2 separate regions of the Homo sapiens genome follow, and region 2 is linked to region 1. A link means that fine-mapping ties the variant in region 1 to the expression of a gene that starts in the linked region. Tissue or cell type: aorta. Region 1 holds a variant in brackets; the other region holds the start of a gene. All regions are shown on one strand. Distances are between the middles of the regions.

Region 1 (8,109 bases):
TTTTCAGAAATAAGTTTCCCACTCAAAATGTGTTCTTGGGGAATATTTTTGGAAAGTCCCCCCATAGATCTCATGCACAGGTGGGCTCAGGATGTTCTATTTTGGGGAATGTGAGTGCACAGTGGTATCTTCAGAAGAACGCACTTGTTTGTACATTGATTTTCACCAAAGAGCTTGTTCAGATTAGGAAACACAGTGGGGTTGGCGGTGGTCACAGACTTTATGCTCAGGGAGAAACTTATTATCCTGAATTAGGTTGGTAGCCATCTGCCAGCTCAACTATTTTTGGTACCAGAACTTAGTGATGCCATCTCTTTAATGACCAAAAGTCACCATGTCTCTACTATCTTGCCTTTGTGAGGCTCTGCTTACATTGGGCGGGGGTTGCCATGCTAACCTGAAAACTCTTGGGCATTTCTGCATATCCTAATATCATGGATGGTTGGACTGAAAGAAGGAGGAATTAAAATATTTAATTTATATATAAGATACAGTGTAGTATAGATGTATGTGTGTGTATGTCTATGTGTATGTATGTATATATGTTTGCACACATATATAAATGTGTGCGTCTGTGTATAGACTGTGTATACCAAATCCAAAATCTCAAATGCTTCAAATTCCAAAACTTTTTGAGTGTGAATATGATGCTCAAAGGAAATGTTTATTGGAGCATTTCAAATTTTGGATTTCCAGATTAGAGATGCTCAACTCGTGTAATGCAAATACTTCAAAATCTGAAAAAAAATGTGAAATGTAAAACACTTCATGCCTTAAGAATGTTGGATGAGGGATACTCAACCTGTTTCTGTGTGTCTGTGTATCATGTATATAATCGATAAACATCTTTTTCACCAGTCAAAGCAGTTCCTTGCCTTTCTAGAAATGAACATTAAAGGACTACTGTTACAGAACTCGTGGCTCTTCTTCTCAGAAAATGCTATACTTCACAACAGCATAAGCAGTGGTGTCTGCTAGTACTTGGGAAAAGTTAATTTTTAATGAAAGTGAGCTTATAGACTAAACAGATATAGAAACCACATAGAATAAGGAAATATGTGGGTACATTTGTATATGATCTGTATATGGTCTTCATCTTATAGTCGGGTATCAGCTTCATAGGTAATTATTCCTCATTGAATAAGTATTAGTTCCTTTTTCCTCTTTTCCCTTTCTCCAGGCTAAACTTTTAAAGCAAAATGTTCATTTTGGGAAATCTGAAAAGATTGACACGAATCCTTCTTAGCCTGTTGAGAGAGCATTCAATGGCATGCTATCACACTTTCCTACAAGAGGGAGGAAGAAATAAGCACCATTTATAACAGAGGAAGATATTTCTTTTACGCCCTTACCACAAATAGGAATTTGTTTTGATTGGAGCACATGTGAGATGTCATAATTGAAAACACAAAGAAAGCACAGAACTCCAAGCTAGAAGTCCCAACTAGAAGTTACAGTTTGTTCTAGACTTGCTGTGTGATCTCAAGCAAGTCACCTCACCTCTCTGGGCTTTTCACATAAAATAACCCAGAGACATGTCGCACATGCTTTTCAGCCTGATTTACCTGTCCCATAGCACCAGTTTACAGCAGAGTTGAGCCTAAGCCCGCGGTTTTGCCTGGCATAGGGTTGGTCCGCTGAGGAACTCGGGAGCATTTTACATGGATTACAGCGCCACCTATTGGGAAAAAGTAGACTATGAAAAATGACAAGATAAAGGGATCGGTGTGGGATTTTTGCTGAAAAAACGAGAGTAACAACAGTATGGATCTAGAAAAATTTCTGAAGTTCACGTCATATTTATATTTATTGAGAAGTGTCCAGTGATGACAAATGTGTGATAAATATATGTTTATAGCAGGGTAATTTTTTTTTAACTGTCAAAAATCTATAGGGTGGTACAAACCATGTTTAACTATATAAGATGCTTAAATTTTGGTTTAGATCCTTATTCTGCTGTAATTGCCTAAAACAAAAGTTGGCATTTTAACTGTGCAAGTACCTAGACATAACAGTACTACTTGAGTTTTTAATCGGTACTATTTGAGTTTTTAATCATCCTGTCATCTAGGTTCTGTCATTGCCCTCCCATGTCCCCCATGGCTCTGAGCCCAGGAGAATGTCAGCCTCTGTCACCTGCCTGCTCCCCTGGTTGGGAAAGGGGTGACAAAGTATTCACAAATGTCCTCAGAACATTGTTCCTGGCAGGGCCACCCTCTTCCCTTTGCTTTCCTGGCGTCTACACCTTATAATAATGACCCTTTTTAATTTCAGTTTTTTAACTTAATTTAATTTTTAAATTTTTCTAGAGACAGGGTCTCACTCCATTGCCCAGGCTGGAGTGCAGTGGTGTAATCATAGCTCACTGCAGCCTCAAACTCTGGGCTCAAGTGATTGTCCTGCCTTGGCCTCCCAAAGTGCTGGGATTACAGATGTGAGCCACCGTGCTCAGCACTAATTTTAGTTTTTAAATTTTTGTGATTACAAGTGCAATAGTTAGATGTTTTAGAAAGTTGGAAAATACAGATAAGCCAAAAAATTGTAAATGCAATTTCATTAAGCAGGCAGATTGCAACTTCTAACATTGCAGTGTCTAGCCTTTTATTCTTAGGCATGCACATATATGTACACCCATCTATATGTGCACTTCTTTTTTACAACAATATGGTATTATATTGTACGTGCTATTTGTAACCTGCTTTTTTTCAGTTAATGATTTCCATCTTTCATGTCAATAAAATGTTATCCTTTGTCTATATTCAAATTGCCCCAATTATAGTGAGATATATTTGTAGTATTTTTGTTTTTATAAGGGGCATGTATGTGTGTTTAGTAGGTGTGTTCTTAAATCACAATTTTTATGATGGTAATTATTTATAATTAGCTCTGAGTATAACACCTAAGATAAACAACCAGATAGAGTCCAAAGTGGTGACTTTCTAAAAATTGTGGGGCTTTTTACATTTAGTAATATCTATTTTTAGTATGTTAAGAACTTATCAGCTTAGTAATCTGACCTATTACTATTTATCTTCAAATCTTAATTTCATGTGTTATTTTCTTCAAAATATTTCTTATAGCATAATAAGCATTCTCAATTTTGAGAATGGGTCTATTTGTTTCGTGTACCTGGTACATTTCATTTCTTGCACACACAGAGAGAGCACTGCTTCATTCCTGAACTCATTACTGAACTACATGGGTTAGCATAAGATTGATAAACATCAGCAGCAATAGAGAATGTTTTAAAATTTCTGTACTATTACTGGTATGTGTAATTGGGTTGTTGGTGTGCACTTACAAGGTACAGATATGAAACTAATCCAGGGAATTGTTATTTATTTCTGAAAGAAGTGGGAAATCTCATAGGGATTTCTTCATTTCAAAGAAGAGCTTTTAGAGTCTTAAAAAAAAATCAGCCCTCTAGAAAATTATTATATTATCTTACAAGAGAAAAAATTCTGTAAATAATGTTAATGCAAAGCAGACTCTGCTGAGTAATAAAATAACCCAAAATTCAATGTGGTGTAATAATATAGAGGAGTGATTATAATGTTCATCCAATCCTTTTCCACTTTTAATGATTTGC[C/T]TCAGGTTTTAGATGGACTGCTCACGTGTGCTCCTGCCTTAGGAAACAGGAAGACAGGCATCTTTTCTGTGGTGATCCTGTGGTCAAACCCATTAGCCAACTGCCTTCAGGTGCATCAACTAGGGGATGATTATCCAACCAGAATTGTTATCTTTGGCAGAAGTAGTTTGGCATCCAGGTGGATAATTCTGAGCTCTATTCAAGCGATTATTTTATTTCCTGTGGGTGCACTTTGTGACTAGTTAACCCCAGCGGCAGCTCCATTGGAAGCACGACCTGCTTAAAAGTTAATGTCCTACTTTTGTAGTGTTATGACTCCTTTATGGTAAAGCTAGACAGTCAGTAATTCCCAACCTCAAAATCTTGTGGTCAGGGTCAGCTTTCCTGTGTTACAGTGCTGAATGCTGAGGCTTCAATTAAATATTTAAAGCATTCAAACTAGTCTGAGTCTATTTTTGGAAAAGATCTTAACCCTATTTAATGTTTATGTCTCACCTTTGTGTAAAGATGGTATGGCTTAGGCAAAACAAGCTTATTAATTATAAAAAACAACAGAGCTTTCACCATGTTACTTTTTTCTAAAGCATATGAACCTCCTCTCAACAAGTATGCTTTCTCATGTGTCAGTTGTATTAGTCTACTATGCATTTGAGCCCCTTGACTTTCAAGCAGAATTAATCACTGTTTTCTCTAAATTCCCCATTCGACAACAGCGACCTAGCCAGGTGCCTAAAGATTACTAAGATGTGGTCCTGCTAGAGGGGAGCTCACATCTATGTACACACAGAACCCAGTTAACTTCTTGAGGTCACTCTGCTGCTTAAGATCTAAGTAAGGCTGGCCTGAACCCCTGTTCCACTTCCTGTGGAAGGTTCAATGCCCTTTATAATCTCATTGTAAACTCCCAAGAGTTTTACGTTCTTGGGGTCACCTCTGGCTCTGACTTTATGCCTTACCACCTCTGGATTCATATTTTTCAGTTTCTGCTTTTGAAATTTCATCCTTTATTTGACACCTCCCAAGGCTACCAGAACCTTAGTGATGGCTTGTAGAGTTATAGTAAGCACATCACATAGCAAACCATTGAAATTTGCATTTTAGGTCTCCTGTTGGTTACTTTCAGCAACACTGCCACTTTGTCCCTCCAATCCTGCCCTCTTTCCACTGGCTAGCTCCTCTTTCTGTCTCTGTCTCCTTTCTGCATTAGCTTCAATCCTATCAGCTCCCTACAAAATGTATCTAGAATCTGAGTAGTCCAGGACACCACCATCTCCCACCTAAATTTTCGCAATAACCTTGTAGCTGCTCCTCCAGGCTATTTTGAATACAAAAACCAGAATGTAATCCTTTTAAAAAGTAGAGTAGATCACATCACTCCTCAGAACTCTTTGGAGGCTTTCTGTCTCACTCAGTAAAATCTCAAGTCTTCACTTGAAAGGCCTTTAAACACTACAAGATTATCACCCTGATTTCATGCCTATTGTTTTCACTAGCCGACTAGTTTCTGTTTTTCTTTAAACACTTAGAGCACATTCCTGCCTCAGGGTTTTTGTACTTGTCAAAGCTATCTTTCCGCAGATATCCCAGTCCCTTCAAGGTCTCAATTCTGGTGTCATTTTTCAATTAGGACATTCCTAACTTCTTTCCTTATTTTTTTTTTTTTTGTCAGAGCATGTAACACCATCTGATATTTTATATATTTTACTTGTTTCTTTTTTCTCTTCTCTCTAGATCAGTTTCATAAACTTCATAAACTACAGTATGATCAGAATAGGTTGGAGTGCCTGTCAAAGCACAGATTGCTCTTCCTCATTCCCAGAGTTTCTGATTAATGATCTGGGCTGGGGCTTGACAATTTGCATTTCTAACAAGTTCCCAGCAGATACTGATGCTGCTGGTCTATGTATCACACCTTGAGAACCAGCGTGTTAGAATTACTCTATCCAGTATGGCAGCCATTCACCAAATGTGTCTACTTATATTGAATTTAAATTAATTTGAATAAAAAATTTGGTTTGGGAGTCCACTATCCCAGTAACCACTGTGTTAGTGCAGATATAGAACGTTTCCATCAGTGCAGAAAATTCCATTGGGCATATTACTGTAAAACACAAACCATAGAAAGATCCACATGGAGCTTACTTTGGTGTAAGGAATCAGGTTAGATACACAACTTTTCTTTTTCATCCGATAGTTTTCCCAGTACCACTTACTGAAAATTCAGTTGTTTCCCCAGAAACAATTCATATGCAGTATTAAATTCACATATGTAGTTATGTCTATTGCAGAACTTTCTGGATTGCTGCATTTATTTGTCTGGCAATAGGAATATTTTCAAGACAAATTTGGCTTCTGAAATTATTGAATAAAGAATTGGACCTAGAATTATAAAATGAGAGAATAAACTCATAAAGAACTTCTGTGGTTTTCAGTTGCCTCTCAAAGAGGCATTTTTAGTAGAAAACATATAGGCAGTGTTGAGTGCAAAGGTCATGATATAGTCGGCAACTTTTTTCTCATGATATCTGATATAGTGTGTAAAGTTTCTAGATAAATAAAATGACTGAGGGAATAGGCCATTATGTTAATATTCTTAACCAATTACCCACACTATTTATTAGATTAGAAAATTAATTTATCACAGATAGAAATACCAATGTTTCTACACAAGGAATCAAATTGTTCTTTTTAAAAAAATCAAAAATGTATTTTAAATGTTTATATGTTTATACATAAACGATGAAAATTATGGCACAAAAATAGGGATAAAAACCAAACAAAACTTTAATAATTTTTTGTTTTGTGTTTTGTTTTGTTTTGTTTTTTGAGATGGAGTCTTTCTCTGTTACCCAGGCTGGAGTGCAGTGGCGTGATCTCGGCTCACTGCAAGCTCCGCTTCCCAGGTTCACGCTATTCTCCTGCCTCAGCCTCCCAAGTAGCTGGGACTACAGACACCTGCCACCATGCCTGGCTAATTTTTTGTATTTTTAGTAGAGATGGGGTTTCACCACGTTAGCCAGGATGGCCTTGATCTCCTGACGTCATGATCCGCCTGCCTCGGCCTCCCAAAGTGCTGGGATTACAGGCGTGAGCCACCGCACCCGGCCATTTGTCTTGTTAACTTATGTATTTCTGGCAAAGATTCAAAAAAACTGTATATTTAAGAAGTAAAAGATGTTGGAAGAATGAGCTTCAATGTTTTTACATTTATTACTTGACACATTTATATATAGAGAGAAAGAAATACAGTCTGCATGTATCATCATTTACTCATAGACAACAGCAGACAGCTACCCCTTCAGTTGGCAATGAAAGTTCTCTTCTCTTCCAGCTAAACTGCATTTATAATAGTATATAACTAGACATTACCTAATCCTTCTTAACTTTATTTACTATCAAAGAAAGTACTATTTCCAAGTCTAGAATTGGTATGTGCCATCCAATTGCTCTTGTAGAGTACCATATTACCAAAAAATCAACTTCCACAAGACCATTTTGCTAGTCTCTCTCTGGATGAAATTTAAAATGTCCTGTTTAAAGCCAAAACATGGGCAATATAGATACATTTATGGGCATAGCCTGTGGCTCAAAAGAAGGATGTAAAACTCTTAAATATTATGCAACCATCTAATAAAGACACAGGAAATGTATTTTGAGAATTGAAATGTATTCCTGAGAATTTTTTTTAAATTGAGGGACTTAGAACCTTTGATTTATTTATTTTTCTTTATATATATACAAGTAATAGGGTGCTACTTGTATGTGGGGGAGAAGGGATGTGTGAGGGACCGTTGAGAAACATACTCCTTATCCCATAAAGATTGGACTGGCCTAGGAGTAGGCAGCGACCACAGAAAGTAGAGATGGGGGCTGAACACGGGATGATCTGAAATCTATGTAACGTGTTGTTTGACTTCAAGACCACACAGTGTCCGACAGTGAATCCTTCCCCACCTCTGCAGGAGACTCCTTGTCTGGAAGAACTGCATCAGAGGCTGCAGGCCTGGGAGCTTACTAGGGGTGACGTGCCGTATGAAAACAGGTGCACTAAAATAAAAGTAGCATACTGAATGGTGGGATTTCTAGCCCCATTTCCCTGTCAAGTTCCCAAAAGCCAGTAACCAGGTTTATATCTCTAGTCAAGAAATTGGAGAATAACTTTTTACTGATATGTGCATTTCCCTTTCGAGGTGGGATGCAGATGGCTGGCTACCCGATTACCCTAAAGTGAATCCCATGAACCTATGCCTCCATCTGTAAAAATACGATGTACACACTGCGGTTTAGTGCCTTATTCTTAAGTGTGAACTAACAGTTTAGGATCACCTGACATTTGGGGAAAGCACATGATACCAAAGATTTTTTAGTGTGCTTTCCTTAAGGGATGACAGTATTAAGAAAGACTCAGAGACTATGTTGTTCTGTCAGTGATATGAATGAAAATATAAGTCTGTGTCAACAATGAGAATCTATGGAAAGGGAAGCAAAAAATTGGTAAGTATCCCTGAATTCCAAGTTGG
Region 2 (8,109 bases), 110 kb before region 1:
ACAATCTAAGAAGACATAAAATAAACACTTCCTTTAGGTTGTAATGTGCAAAGGTGAAATGCACAGAAAGATATTAACCATCTTTTAAGTGTAATTTTTCAGTTTTAAATAAAGCTTTTCAAGTGGTACTTATAGTGGAATAAAAACATACTTAAAATAAGCATTTAAAAATGTTTTCATTATTCCAAATAGTTTACAAAAATTTTAGACAAACTCCAACCATTATGGCCCACTTTAACATGCCTATCTGCTTTTTATATAAGCACACAGGTATTTATTAAGCATGTAAACCTCCTTTCCATTTATTACTATCCAGGAGGAATATGAAACCTAGATTATTATTCAGAGAGATATATAGCTAAGTGGACCTTCATTTAGCTTCATTCTACCCATTGATTTTGGTACTAACCCCATTAGGTAACCACGTGAAGAATAAGTCTTCTTTCTCTAGTAAGACAAACTCACCTTCCATCTGTTCCATTTAAAATGGCCTACCAGCCCCTTTGAGTTGAAGTCTTTCCCTGAATCAAGTTCCTTTTAGGATTCTTCTGAGGAGGGAAGGCCTGAAGGTTTCCTTCATTCCTTTATTCAGTACACAAATACTGGTGGAGAGTCTCCTGTGTTCTGGGCTATGCTTTCAGGAGACAAAGGATAAGACGTGGTCCTTTAAGAGTAGGCTGGGCACTGTGGCTCACGCCTATAATCCCAGCACTTTGGGAGGCCGAGGCAGGCGGATCACAAGGTCAGGAGTTCAAGACCAGCCTGGCCAACATGGTAAAACCCCATCTCTGCTAAAAATATAAAAAATTAGCCGGGCACGTGGCACATGCCTGTAGTCCCAGCTATTCGGGAGGCTGAGGCAGGAGAATCACTTGATCCTGGGTGGTGGAGGTTACAGTGAGCCAAGATCATGCCACTGCAGTCCAGCCTGGGTGACAGTGAGACTCTGTCTCAAAAAAAAAAAAAAAAGAGAATAAACCCCTCCAACTCTGCATTATGTAAATGAATAACTGAAACAAAGTGTCATGGGTCCTTGCCCTACCTAACAGAACCTACTGGGGGCCAAGAAAGGGAAGGGCTACTTCTATTTCTGCAATGAGGGAAGTATTCCTGAGGGGATAATACCTATGCTTAGGCACTTAAAATGATCGGCTGGGTGGTGAAATGAGGGGGAGATTCCCAAACGGGGAAATTGAGCGCAATCTTGGAAACGTGGGCAATTTTGAAACAGCTCTGCATAACTAGAAAGATTGGAAAACAGCAGTTTTCTCCTGTTATGTGAAAAGATTTATAGCAGCCAGGCATGGTGGCTTATGCCTGTAATTCCAGCACTTTGGGAGGCTGTGGTGGGCAGATCACCTGAGGCCAGGAGTTCGAGACCAGCCTGGCCAACATGGTGAAACCTTGTCTCTACTAAAAATATAAAAATTAGCCAGGCGTGGTGGTGGTCACCTGTAATCCCAGCTACTCGGGAGGCTGAGGCAGGAGAATCACTTGAACCCCAGAGATGGAGGTTGCAGTGAGCCGAGATCGCATCACTGCACTCCAGCCTGGGCAACAGGAACAAGACTCCTTCTCCAAAAAAAAAAAAAAAAAAAAAAAAAAGATTTATAGCAAATCTGTGATTATTATTTTGCTAATCACTGGCTACAGTGAGGATAGCTTAGTACCATTATGTGAAGACCACCAAGCTTGGTGGTGCTCTTAAGTGGTTTTGCCCAACATGAGCTTATTTCTTGCTTATGTGGATTCTGTTGTAGGTCCTGGGACTCTCCAGGGCAGCTGTGCTCTGGGTAATAGTTTAGCATTCCAGTCTTGTGTCACCTTCATTTTAATACATGCTTTCATGATTGCAGTAGCAAAGGAAGGGAACATAGAGACTCAAACACTGGCAGTAATTTCACCAGGAAATAAAGCATTTCATGTCTGTTCACATTTCCACTTATCAAAGTCACAGGGTCATACCTAATTTCCATGGGGTGGAGCATATAGTTCTCCCTAGGACCAGAAGGAGGACAGCAAAAAGTGGTAAGCACTGAAAATGCCTTCAGTGGTTACGAAATGTTATGAATGTTTTATGACTAAGATTAGCCTAATCTTACTGGTATTAGGGTCCATAATATTACTAGTATGTCATAAATTAAGGCTGAAACTAATTAAAGATTTAATCTTGTCTTGTGATTGAAAGTTATGGACTTTCAAGTAGTTTCACTGTTACTCAATATTTGCATCATTGTCTGTGCAAGCAACTGTAAAAGCTTGCACAGCTCTGTATTCAGAAGCATAAATGATTCATGAAATTGTTTAAACAGAGTTATTGTTTAAAGACTAAAACCCAGAGGTATTTAAATAAATTGCTTTACTCTTAGTTAAAATCTCTAAAAGCAACTTTTTCTAATATGGTTCCAGTATTGTAATCCAAATGAGCCATGTGTTTTTTTCTTTTCATATTTAAGATGCACTGAAAGGACATTATGCACTGAAAGAAATAAATACCAATGCCTGCGTGTGGTAGACAAATGGCACATTGCTAGGCATTTAGTTCAGCAATCTTTTTTTGTTGCTGCAATGGATAACCAACTAAAGGAGCATTAATATCAATTTAATTGTAATACCTGCCAAATGTTATTCTATCAGTGGCTAACACAGGTTTATTACTTGATGTTAGTGCTACAACAGAAGTCCCCTGCAGGATGTTCCTTCCTGTAAGATCTCTCCATCAGTTTAATCCAAATATGTTTTTAAAACTCTAATTTTAAATTCATTTCTTAATGTCACGTTGTTTTCTGAAAACACATTTTTGGGCCCATCAGAATGGCGCGCATCTTAAAACAATTGGCGCTTATGAAAAATATAAAATATGTAAATATATTAGGGTGGTGCAAAAGTAATTGCGGTTTTGTCATTACTTTTTAAAAAAAAAAAAAATGGCAAAAACCGCAGTTACTTTTGCACCAACCTAGTACCTGTCTGTCAGGTGTAAAGAATCATCTAAAGGGCATGCACGTGGATACTAAAACGTACAAACAAGCACACAGCTGTGTCTGATTCCTTTACCCTTGTAAAAGTTCCAATAAGTGAATACAATCTATTACTTAATTCTTAGTTTATAGACTGTCATTAGACATACTGTTGTCCAGTTCTCATGTCAGAGCTGTTATAGGCTTTTACAAAAAATGCCTCTGAAGACAGGGCAAGCTTAAACCTGCCACCAATTAGAAAGATCTGTGTCACAGGTGCGCTTTTAAAAGAATGGCAATCTTAAAGGTCAAGTTAAAAACACAAATTTAAAAAAACGATCCTGGACGTCGAGGGTCGGACTCTAGGGGGGGCAAGCTGCAGGCCCCACTCTGCGAGTTTCTGACCGCATTCCGCGGAGGCCCCAATCCTCCCCGCGGATCCTGGCAAGGCAGGTAACCTCCCTTCCCCCGCACCTGTCCGGTTCAGGCGCACCAGCCTTCCCGAAGCGCAGCCTAGCGGTGGGAATGGGAACACCTCGTCTGGGAGCTTTCTTTCGGTTCAGCTTCCCCAGCCGGACCCCAAAGACCCGAAGCCCTGGGGGAAGGAAATTCCAACTTGCTCCCGGCCCACCCCCGCCCCGTTCCTCTCTCCGGCTCGCTGCTTCCCTCGCTCCAATGCCGCCGAGCTGGTCCCCACTTATGTGCGGCCGTGCTGCAGAGGCGGCGGCGAGCTCCCGGACTCCGGGCAGGGAAATGGGGCAGGGTGAGTGAGAGAGCGGGCTCCAGCGAGGCCCCCAGCGCCCAGCCAGCGCCCGCACCCCGCCCGCGGGACAGGGGAGGTGCTGAGTCGGCCCTGCCCGCGCTGGGCTGAGCCTCGCAGGGGTTGCCGCTTCTCCATTCAAGTCCTGGCTTGAGAGCCGAGCGGCAAGAGCGCGGGCCGGGGAAGGGAAGAGTAGGAGAGGAAGCCGCGAGGGAGAACAGGCGAGCTACTGTCTCCTTTGGAAAAGAACGTAGGAGCCTTGGGTGGGAAAAGAGAGATCAGCCCTCCCAACTTCTCTTCGGGAAAAGTTTTCCTAGGGCGTTTTGTTTGTGCAAACTCGGCCGGAGGAGCCTGGGAGTGCGCTGCCGGCGTGGCAGCGGTGCCCGTGCGCCCGGCCCCGCTCCTCCTCCTTTTCCAGCCCCGGCGGCTCCTCTCCCTCCGAGAGGCGCCAAATGGCTACCCAGTAAACCCCACGGGGCGGGGGCTGCAGCGCCACCGCCTCCTCCGCCGTGCTCTGGGCGCCCGCTAGACCTTGTAGAGACGGCGGCGGCGCCCGCGGGCTGGGAGCCGGGGCCCGCAGGTGGAAGCGCACCCGGGAGGCGGGCCGGCCGGGGCTGGAGCGGCTCGGGCGGGCTCTTGACGCTCAGCCAGCTTCGCTCCGGCCTCGGGAAGGCGCGCGTCCCGCCCTGACCCGCCGGCCTCTCCCACCCCAGCAGTGACGCGCCGCCTGGGAGCTGGAGCCCGCGCAGCGCCCCGCAGGGCGATGGACGGCCGAACCCCGCGCCCGCAGGACGCCCCAGCCAGGTAAGCCCAGAGCGCCGCGCCGCCTCTCACCGGGGAGGGCGAGGCCGGCGAGGACAGCGAGGCCTCGGCCGTTTCACCTGGCTGGCAACTCGCTGCCCTGCCGGCGGCCTGACTCACTGACTGTCCTCCACGCGGCCGGGGAGGCTGCTTCCTCCCGGCCTTCTCGGAGGCCGCCCGGGCGGAGGGCTCGGGTCGTTTTTGGTTGCCTTCCTACCGGGGCTGCCCTGGGTTGCTACAGGCCAGCTGAATGCCAGGAATTGGGTGAGGAGTCCGGGAGCAAAAATTGTAACAAAGGGACCCTTGTTTGGGCTCTGGGGGAGCGGTGGACGATACCTGTAAGTGAGCTCCTGGGGAGGGAGGGCAAAAGTTTCCTTGGTCATGGGCTGAGGCCCAGGCAGGTGAGCAATGTCAAGGTGACTGTAGGGAGTGGGCTTTCTGCAGGCGGGTGGAGGGCGACAGGAGGGTGTGCCAGCTGTCAGCCCGCATGACAGTTCCGGGAGCGAGCGGGGTGCGCGCCTCTGATTGGGGGTGTGTGTGCCTGTGGCCAATTGCTGGTTCCAAAACCCAGCGCAAATCAGATTGCAAACAACTCTACTTTTCTTTTTATCCTCACATGTTTGAGAAGAGAGGAAGGGGGCTGTCACATGGTGAGTTAATATTAAATGAGGCATGTCTTCCTGCCAGATATGCTAATAGTTACCTTGTTAAGCGTTTGAGTAAACAGTAATGAGAACAGGTAGTTCTGCAAGAGATGAAGAAAACCTGAAAATAACCTTGGTCTTAGTAAATAGTTCAGGAGTAACCTGGATGCTAGTTGAGTTTCTCAAGTAGGAAACTCGTTTGATGTAGTACAAGATTTTTCCCCCCAGCATAAGTGTTCCTCCAACATAGTTTATTTTCTTAGTTAATCTGAATGCAGAAATGCCCTAATGAGAATACGAGCATTCCAGAAATAGAAACGTTAAGGAAAAATCGACGTTGTCACTAATGAATGAGACTTGTACAGTTTTCCTGATTTAAGAGTGTAGAAGTCATTTTTCCCTGGAACATGACAGGCGTTTCCTTAGAAGCAAGTCACAGCATGTTTATTCATCAGAGACCATGCGAACATTGGCAGCTGTCTAGAGGAAACATGGAAAAGTCTCAAAGCAACATGACTAATCTAAAAGATATTTAGTATAATTTTTACATAGAGGAAACATGTAGTGTATTAATTATTTCATTTTGCTCAAATTAACTTTCTCCTTTCTGCAAATATTACTCCCACTGTTGACTTTCATTTCTTTTCTTTCCCCAGGTTTTTCATTGCTTAAATATTTTCATATATCCTGACATATATTCTCACATTAGGATGAGTAAAGAAATATATCGGTAGAAAGATATTGAGCATACAAGCAAGGTTCCTAAGTGGAGCTGCAAAATTATGTGAATTGACGATGAGACAGCTGTCAGGATACCGAAATGTATTCAGGGATTGCAAAATGAGATAGAATTAAATTGGATTTGGAAATGGATTAGGTTAAGGTACTTTAAAAAACAAAAAAGAAAGAAAAACATACCTGCTTTCACAAAATACACCCATGGGTGTTCAGAAGTCACTGGGGACTTTTAAGTAAAATAGGTGAGGTCAGATGGCTCTGTGTTGAAGAAACAGAAGAACACTTTTTGCTGGCAAGCATAACTGTAGTAAGAACCTTCAGACTTTACTCTTGATATTTTATTTTAATGTAGAGACAAGGTCTTGCTATGTTGCCTAGTTGATCCGAAACCCCAGGCTTCAAGCAATCCTCTCACCTTGGCTTCCCAAAGTGTTGGGTTTACCAGTATGAGCCAGTGCGCCCAGCCACTTTTGAGAATTTAAAGGTTAAACTGATAAGTTCTTTGCTTAAAAAGAAAGTACAAAAGAGCCTTATCTAATTTGTCAAGCATTTGTAAAGGACTTTTGCCGTCCCCTTTTCAAATTTAAGTAGGGAAAATCTGTCAACACCTTATCTAAAATAACACAGTAGTTCTATCATTTTGCCTTACATTATTCTACTCAGAGAAGTTATCATTACCTGAAAAATATCAACATGAAAAAATTACCTCTCTACTTCATTTGTCTTATTTCACTTGTCTAACTTGTCCTTTGGCATATTCCGAATGCCTGTCATATAAGATTTGTTGAATATTTAATATTCAGTATTGCTTCTCTTCTCTCTCAAAAACCCAAATTATAAAAGGTTTAAACTGGGGGAAAAATATCTAGATAAGGGTATTTGGGAAGTGGCAGGCAGAAATCTTAATATGTTATAATTGTTAGGTTTTGGAGATAAATTTCTTGCTATAAAACTGACTAATTATATCATAACTCATTACTTTAATAGACAATGAAGCCTAGTTTAGTCTTTATCCTTGGATATTACTGTTGGAAAGAATTCCTCTGTAATTTTCCAAGTTTTACATTGTTGTAACATGTCATTTTAACATAGCACCAAGTTTTGTTCTCCACATTTTATAAATGAGAATCTGAAGCTCAGAAACACTGAGTGTGTTGAAGTCCCAGCAAATTAGTAGTAAAACCAGAAGAAAAACTCCAAGTGCCTAGTTCATTTTGTTAATTGCTTTTTATCTTTTCTTGACCATGGTATGATATAACATACCATGACGTTATACATTTTAACGGATAACTTATATTTAACCATTAACTCTGTAATATTTTAATACATTTCAGGAAAAATGTAGTTGATATCCTTATCTTCACTTTTATTAATTCTATGATAAATTAGCCCATTCAGGGAATGAGTATTTTAGGAAAATAAAATTGTTTTATGGCCTCTCAGCTGCTGCTTTTTCTTTGAAACATTCTAAATAATAATTGTAACATCAAAAGGGATAGTTTGAAGTTTGTTTGGTGCCTTCACACATTTAACTCGCATTTAGCATTCTACGACATTGTGAATTATATGGGTTGGGTGTCATTTTCTTTTCAGTGGAAGCAATGGTGTGCAGAAATAGTGGCTGCCGTAGGGTCTGTGCTGGTGAAGTCCCTGCCTTAAAAGGGTCTGATCCTGTGGTCATCTTGAATGTCTTTCATTTTGGCCTCTACTGTACTGCTTTAATCCCTTACCATTCTAGATTAGATCCCTTTCTTTTGAGACAGGCTGGAGTCTTGCTATGTTGCCCAGGCTGACCTTGACCTCTTGGGCCCAAGTGATCCTCCCACCTCAGCCTCCTGCATGGCCGAGACTACAGTCACAAGCCACTGTGCCTGGCTTTAGATCACTTTCTTAGTAACATGCAGAAGTATCCACTTTATATTTGTTGTTCTGTATCTTATGGGCTTCTTTTTGGAATTCGTTATGAGGTTAAGAGTTTAGATATCAAAAGACATTGAGTCACAACAGTTTCGGTTTTCCTTCGAGAAAAAAGATTGCATGCAACTTTATATATATTCAAATGTAATATGTACATTCATATATAATTACATATTTTATGTATACTATACATATACATACATATATACTCCTATCTAATTCATGTATATATGTTTTCATATGTATGTGAAAGTTGACTGGTTTAACTTACATAGTGATCTAGATGAAA

Which allele goes with the higher level. Alleles are on the strand shown, and positions count from the first base shown. SD is a standard deviation of normalised expression in the study named.
For the expression in aorta of the gene that starts at base 3,857 in region 2, allele T in region 1 goes with a higher level than allele C (small effect, 0.15 SD a copy in GTEx).

The links. PIP is the estimated chance that this variant, and not a neighbour inherited with it, causes the effect.
Region 2: it holds the start of COBLL1, and the variant in region 1 is fine-mapped to the expression of COBLL1 in aorta (GTEx, PIP 0.93).

The regions. Positions count from the first base shown.
Region 1 is chr2:164,731,361-164,739,469 of GRCh38, reverse strand. The region is part of intron 3 of COBLL1 (cordon-bleu WH2 repeat protein like 1); the gene reads left to right. Among named protein-coding and RNA genes, the nearest start is that of SNORA70F, 48 kb to the right of the region's middle. The variant C/T (reference allele first, on the strand shown) is at 3,590.
Region 2 is chr2:164,837,571-164,845,679 of GRCh38, reverse strand. It overlaps COBLL1 (cordon-bleu WH2 repeat protein like 1), which reads left to right and starts at 3,857. Exons shown (of 14, transcript NM_001365672.2): 1 at 3,857-3,970; 2 at 4,434-4,524. The coding sequence starts at 4,484. LOC101929633 (a long non-coding RNA gene) reads right to left here and starts at 4,931. Exons shown (of 2, transcript NR_110574.1): 1 at 4,858-4,931. RefSeq lists a silencer at 3,674-3,883.